Linked DNA regions of Homo sapiens. The protein of the gene in region 1 interacts with the protein of each later gene in a pairwise test. Each region holds a gene or a part of one and is shown on either strand. Other genes may lie near its edges.

Region 1 (3,500 bases):
TTCCATAGCTCTGCTCCAGGCCCAGCTCAGGGACCTAGGGACACTGATTCTGTTCCCTGAGCCTCACTTTCCTCAACTGTCCACAAAGGAGGGTGGGTAGGATGATTTCTGAGCATCTTTCCAGCTCTCAAGGCTGTGATGCTGTCCTGGGATAAGAAACCCTTGGGCTCTGGGACGGAAGCGTGTTGGTGGTTTAAAATCTGTCCTCCCTTCTGCCTGCCTCCGTTATCCAGTAGGGCAGCGAGGGAATGCGCCCCCGCTGATCAGGGATGACTGGGAGTGACTGTCACCAGGCCACAGCTAAGTCTCCCTGTGGCTCACACTGCCCGGCACGGCCGAAGTGAGATCCCTTCTGCCTCTCCCAGCCCCCGTCCCTGAGGCCTCTCAGGCTCAGCCTTGCCTACTACCCAGAGGACTGAGGGCAGCCAGCTCCTACCTGGCATGGCCTGATAACATCAGGGTGCCCTGACTCCTGTAGGCATCTTCTTCCTCAGGGCTCCCCAGGGCCCCAGCACAGGTGTTGTGACTTTGCCCACCCATGGACTGCTTCCAGCCAGTGTAGCTGCCCCATCCGGACCTGGGGCATGATGGGAAGCAGGGCCTGGCCTCCCCTGGCTGCGGTGGTTCCCCTGTGGCCGGCTGCACACGTGGCCTTACAGCATTGTGAACTTGGGGGCCTGACAGGGCCCTCATGCTCCAAGCTAGAAAACTGTTCAGTGCTTGGTGTGGCGCATGAAATATTTATTCTCCTGCAGGTTTCATTCCCTTGCTGTTTACTTAAGGACACAGCTTCTTCCTGTGGTTCCCTGTTGTATTCTGCTAAGAGGGACAGCAGCGTCGGATTTGTCCCTTGGCCTGGAGTCTGGAATAACTAGGGAGAGCCTTGGTGGCTGTGTTTAAACAGGGCTCCCGGGGCAGGCTAGAGATCCCTGAGCCCGGCCGTGTGCCTGCTGTGGCCTCTGCCTCTTTCTTCCCCTCAAGCTTTGCCCAGGGTCTCTGCACAGTATTGGTCCAGACATCCTGTGAGTATATCTCCCTTTAAAAAAAAGAAAGATAGCCAGGCACAGTGACACATGCCTGTAGGCCCAACTACTCTGGAGGCTGAGATGGGATGATCGCTTGAGCCCGGGAGTTCTCGGCTGTAGTGTACTATACCCACTAGGTGTCCCAGCTAAGTCCAGCACAAATATGGTGACCTCCTGGGAGCGGGGGACCACCAGGTTGCCTAAGGAGGGGTGAACCAGGGCAGGTCGGAAATGGAGCATGTCAAAACTCCCGCGCTGATCAGTAGTGGGATTGCTCCTGTAAATAGCCACTGCACTCCAGCCTGGGTAACACAGCGAGACCCATCTCTTAAAAATAAGCTGGAAAAACAATACTAAAAATAGCCCTGTGAGTAGATTAAATCTTGTTTTAATTGCACTGAGGAAACAAGCCATTTAGTGTAACTAAGGGGCAGCTTCTTGTTTAATGGAAGGGTTCTGATGTTAGAAATCCCTTCTTTCCCTCCCTGCCTCAGCAGGCCTTAGCCTGGGTCCTTGAAGACACTTTGAGGCCTCTGCCACAGGCCACTTGGGCAGTGGGGTCGCTGCAGTTGTGACAGGGGCCACTGGGGGGCAGTCTCGGCACAGGCCCCATCCTGACTGGGAGGATCTTCATTTCACAGTGGGTTTGGCTCTGGCTGGGCAGACACTGGAAGGTTGTCTTGTGGCTGCCTGCGGGGACAGTGGGGAGGGAGGAGTACTGCCCTGTGAAGGTGGCCAGCCTGCCCTGTGTCATGTGTCCCTACAAGGCACAGCAGGAGGAGAGGGTGCTGGTGGCAGGGCCACAGCCCAGTATATAGAGTGGGTTTCCCCATGGAAAGTGCGGATGAGCGCTTGCCCTTAGGGGAATTCACGCAAGCAGGTGGGAAAATCGACCGAAACTGGATCTGTCCCAGGCCTGAGAGGGTCTCTGCCTTCCCTAGCAGCTTAGGCTGGGAGCCTCCCTATCCTCTTGGAGCAGCCTGCACACACCTGCCGCAGGTGTTGGAGGGCCGGGCACAGTGGCTCACTCCTGTAATCCCAGCACTTCGGGAGGCCAAGGCAGGTGGATCACTTGAGGTCAGGAATTCGAGAGCAGTCTGGCCAACTTGGTGAAACCCTATCTCTACTAAATAGGAAAAATTAGTAGCTGGGCATGGTGGCACACGCCTGTAATCCCAGCTACTCGGGAGGCTGAAGCTGGAGAAGCGCTTGAACCTGGTAGGCGGAGGTTGCAGTGAGCTGAGCTTGCCCCACTGCACTCCTGCCTGGGTGACAGAGTGAGTCTTTTTTTTTGTTTTTTTTGAGACGGAGTCTTGCTCTGTCGCCTAGGCTGGAGTGCAATGGCACGGTCTCAGCTCACTGCAACGTCTGCCTCCTGGGTTCAAGCAGTTCTCCTGCCTCAGCCTCTGGAGTAGCTGGGATTACAGGCACCCGCCACCATGCCTGGCTAATTTTTGTATTTTTTAGTAGAGATGGGGTTTCACCATGTTGGCCAGGCTGGTCTCAAACTGCTGACCTTGTGATCCACCCTCCTCGGCCTCCCAAAGTGCTGGGATTACAGGGATGAGCCACTGCGCCCGGCCGAGTCTTTAAAGAAAAGAAAGGAAAAGAGAAAATGAAAGACAGAAACAATGATCCTTGGGGTGGAGTGTGTGTCCCCTCCCTGCAGCCCTGTTGGCACTGGCTCTCTAAGGGGCTGCGCCATCTGTGTCATCTTAGGAGCGGCAGGCAGCCAGGGAAGCCTGTGGATGACTGAAGGGTCTTTTCTCCCTGACTGAAGGGTTGGTTTCACTCCCTAGGCCAGGACCAAACCGTCACGAGCCAGGTGGCCGTGACCCTCCGCAGCACTTTGGGGGGCCACCACCTCTGATTTCGCCCAAGCCCCAGCTCCATGCTGCACCCACGGCCCTCTGGAACCCCGTGTCCCTGATGGACAACACCTTGGAGACGCGGCGGGCCGAAAGCCACTCTCTGCACAGCCACCCGGCTGCATTTGAGCCCAGCCGCCAGGCAGCCGTGCCGCTGGTGAAGGTGGAGCGGGTCTTCTGCCCGGAGAAAGCAGAGGAGGGGCCACGGAAGCGTGAGCCTGCCCCTCTGGACAAGTACCAGCCACCTCCGCCGCCACCACGAGAGGGAGGGAGCCTGGAGCACCAGCCCTTCCTGCCCGGGCCCGGGCCCTTCCTGGCTGAGCTCGAGAAGTCCACCCAGACCATCCTGGGCCAGCAGCGGGCCTCCCTCCCACAGGCGGCCACCTTCGGGGAGCTCAGCGGACCCCTGAAGCCTGGCTCGCCCTACCGGCCCCCAGTGCCACGGGCCCCCGACCCTGCCTACATCTATGATGAGTTCCTGCAGCAGCGCCGGAGGCTGGTCAGCAAGCTGGACCTGGAGGAGCGCAGGCGGCGGGAGGCCCAGGAGAAAGGTCTGCCTCCCCGCGGGCCCCGAGCTGCTCAGGGAGAGCCGCACAGTGGGGATGGG
Region 2 (3,500 bases), on another chromosome or scaffold:
TTTGGAGCCACATAATCTCTGTCACAACTCAACTCTGTCATTGTAGCATGAAAGCAGTCATAGACAGTATGTAAATGAACGAGTGTAGCTGTGTTCCAATGAAACTTTGTTAACAAAACAGGTCCATAGTTTGCCATTGCCTGGTCTAGGCCTTTTAGATGCACCTTTTTAAAAAAAACCTTTATGGCCAAGTATGTTTAGGAAACAATACCTACCCCACTGACCTAGAATTTTGTGTAACTCTGTTTAACCCGGATTTTCCTAAATGTATTTGACAACCGTGTGCTTTTTTTAAAATGGGACATATACCCTGCAGGATAAATTATGGGAAATCTTGTGGGTTGCAAGTTTGTCAATTTCCACAAATGTTTGGCAAATTTTAGGTCTTATTTGAAAATGTTTGGCAGGCTTGGTGCCATCTCCATTCCCCAAATGGGAAGAGGGCTTGACTTGAGGCTCCAGAGGGTCAGTCTCAGACTCCCCTTTCTGAAAAAATAGAGACTCCTATATGGAGAGTTTGATGGTTATGGTTTGATGGTTTGAAAAGCTCCAGTAAAGCCTACTGCTGGATTTGCCTTGTTAGTTTCTTTCTTTCTTTCTTTCTTTCTTTTTTTAAGGAAATCATTTCGTTCATGCTAGTATTTTACATCTTTGGGATGCAGCAAACAGTATGGAGCAAAGTAGAGGGATGTTACAAGCACATTTTAGGAACTCCAGAACAAATATTCATGAGGCCTTTCCTCAGTTTGGAAGCCTTGACTTGCAGCCTATTTTTAAGCAGTTTTCTGAACTGAGACCCTCCTCTAATGTTATACTGTATAAGGCTCTCACTGATAAATTAATGCAAAATAGGCTTTTCTGCCCCCCTTCCACATCTGAGCCACAAGAGGAGTTTCCCTATTGCAGGGAGGTTAATAACCAGTAGCTCCTCCTTTGCAAATACCAAGAAATTTAAATTTTAGTTTGTTATTCTCCAGTTTATAACAGTCTCTTAATATGGCCCTACTGACTTTTCACTCATGAGGGTAGAACTGGATCCCTTGATGGTAAATTATTGAGAGCCTCTATTTTTTTTCAATGTTCAATACAATGAAGACAGTTGTGCTGGAGAATAGCTATTAAGAGGAAAAGGTTAAAATGAGTAATATTTACGTTTTAAAATAACAATGGTCTTGAAATAACATTTACTTACTTGCACTTAAATACGGAGACTACTACTACCAACACACATGGAAGAGAATAATTGGTATCCTTCACTATTCCTTGAAGAGCCCTAGATTTAGTGCCCATTTACTAGCCAGAAGTCAAGGGTTCAAACCTCTATGAACTTGTTTGCTCCCCTGCAAAACTGAAGTTTTAAAAATGTGCCTGTCCAGTGTCTGAGAATTGTCATGGAACTTCGTGATAATGTCACTAAGTCATTTTATAATCTGTTAAATTTCTTAAAAGTCAAACACGGCCGGGTGCGGCGGCTCACGCCAGTAATCCCAGCACTTTGGGAGGCCGAGGCGGGTGGATCACAAGGTCAGGGGATCGAGAACATCCTGGCTAACACGGTGAAACCCCGTCTCTACTAAAAATACAAAAAATTAGCTGGGCGTGGTGGTGGGCACCTGTAGTCCCAGCTACTCGGGAGGCTGAGGCAGGAGAATGGTGTGAACCCAGGAGGTGGAGCTTGCAGTGAGCCGAGATCGCTCCACTGCACTCCAGCCTGGGTGACAGACCGAGATGCCGTCTCAAAAAAAAAAATAATAAAAGTTTAACACATGACTGCTACTTCTTTGGGGGCATTAAATATTCTTAATACCATCAGAAATAAAGATAGACTCAAAAATCATCTTCATACCTGGAAATCTTAGTCTAGGGATGTTTTCTTGGGAATATTTTTACCAATTAAAAAAAAATTTGAACTCTTGCATGGGCAATTTAAAGGTCTGCAAATTGTGAATAAAGGAATAATAGTTGCGAATAATAACCTGAGAATTATGCAGATACGTGTGTGTTTTTTAGTAGCTTTTTGCTATCTAAAATTATGCTGTTAGTGAATATGATTGTGGTTTGTTCAATTCATACTAAATAGTATATGCCTTTCAGAGTCTGTGGAGATCTTTAAAAGTGCCAACTAAGGGCTGGGTGTGGTTGTTCACACTTGTAATCCCAACACTTTGGGGGGCCAAGGCGAGAGGATCACCTGAGGCCAGGAGTTCAAGACCAGTCTGGGCAACATAACCAGACTCCATCTCTACAAAATAAAAAAAGTAGCCAGGCATGGTGGCACAGCATGTAGTCCAAACTACTCAGGAGGCTGAGGTGGGAGGATTGCTTGAGCCCAGGAGTTCAAGGTTACAGTGAGCCATGATCCTGCCACTGTACTCCAGCCTGGGGTGACAGAGTGAGTCCCTATTAAAAAATAATAATAATAAATAAATAAATAAATAAATAAATAATAAAAACAGTGCTAACTAAAATACAAGCTACCACACACACTGTATCAGCCGATTTTTAAACAGAGTGTGGATGCCACGGGGCAGCTTTGCAGAATGGAATAAAATGGAGTGTAAAAAAGAGCTTGGAGACATGTTATGTGCTAAGAGGAGTGACTCTCTCCATGTTTCCTACAACGTGAATAGAAATAAAGTGTGAACTTCCATCTGACTACTTATTGGTGGGTTGATGAAGAAGCAGATTCATTTCTCTTCTTAGATTTTTTTTCCAAGTGAAGAATGATCTTTTTGGCATACTTCTCATCAAGCTCACCCCAAAACAAGAAACTAACTTAGGTAAATAGATTTAGTTTGCTCAGTCTTTTCCATTTTTGCCACAGAATCTTCCAATACATACATACACACACACAGCCTTTCTTTCAAACAATTGTTATCCTCAAGTAGTTCTGTTCTTCTTCTTTTCAAAATTTATAAGCACCTCGTTATAAGTAAAATGAGAAATGCATTGTAATGAAATGCAATGTAATGTTCAAAATAATTAGCATGCAAAATGCTGAAGAAAAATAGCAATCTGACAAGAAAATGCTACCAATGTATTGAGTTTGCTAAAAAGAGAATGAAAAATATCCTTTATTCTTCAGATTTTCTTATTTCAAAATATGGCCCTGTAAAAGAAAATAGATATCATCATTTAGGCTTGATACAATTAAGGTTATTTAAGATGAACAACAAAAACAACAACAACAAAAATAATTGAAGTTATTTGACGGAAAGGGTAAAATGGCTGAGTCCTATGGCAGCCTTTCCCTAGAAAGACAGTCTTCCATCTCTTCGAAAAGAGAAAAGGGAAGCTACATCTCTGTTTCCGTTAAGCCAGACACAGTCATGGTTAGAATCTCTATGAATTGGTGGACAATGTCATCTCTTTGCTTCTAACCATAGCTAAAGATAGTCAGCTTCTCAAAGACAGTCCCAAGTTGTCAATAAAATCTGGAGCCCATGGCCCTCTCATGGGTTTCCATCAGGACATGTAGTAGGGTCACCACTCACAGTTGG

What was found.
Region 2: the proteins of GSE1 (region 1) and CADPS interact in a two-hybrid assay, tested with the Homo sapiens proteins (one large-scale study listed by BioGRID).

Annotation. Positions count from the first base shown.
Region 1 is NC_000016.10:85,658,322-85,661,821, forward strand, and holds part of GSE1 (genetic suppressor element 1), read left to right. Parts: intron 1-1,056; exon of another isoform or gene 1,057-1,354; intron 1,355-2,824; coding exon 2,825-3,444; intron 3,445-3,500.
Region 2 is NC_000003.12:62,487,417-62,490,916, reverse strand, and holds part of CADPS (calcium-dependent secretion activator 1), read left to right. Parts: intron 1-3,500.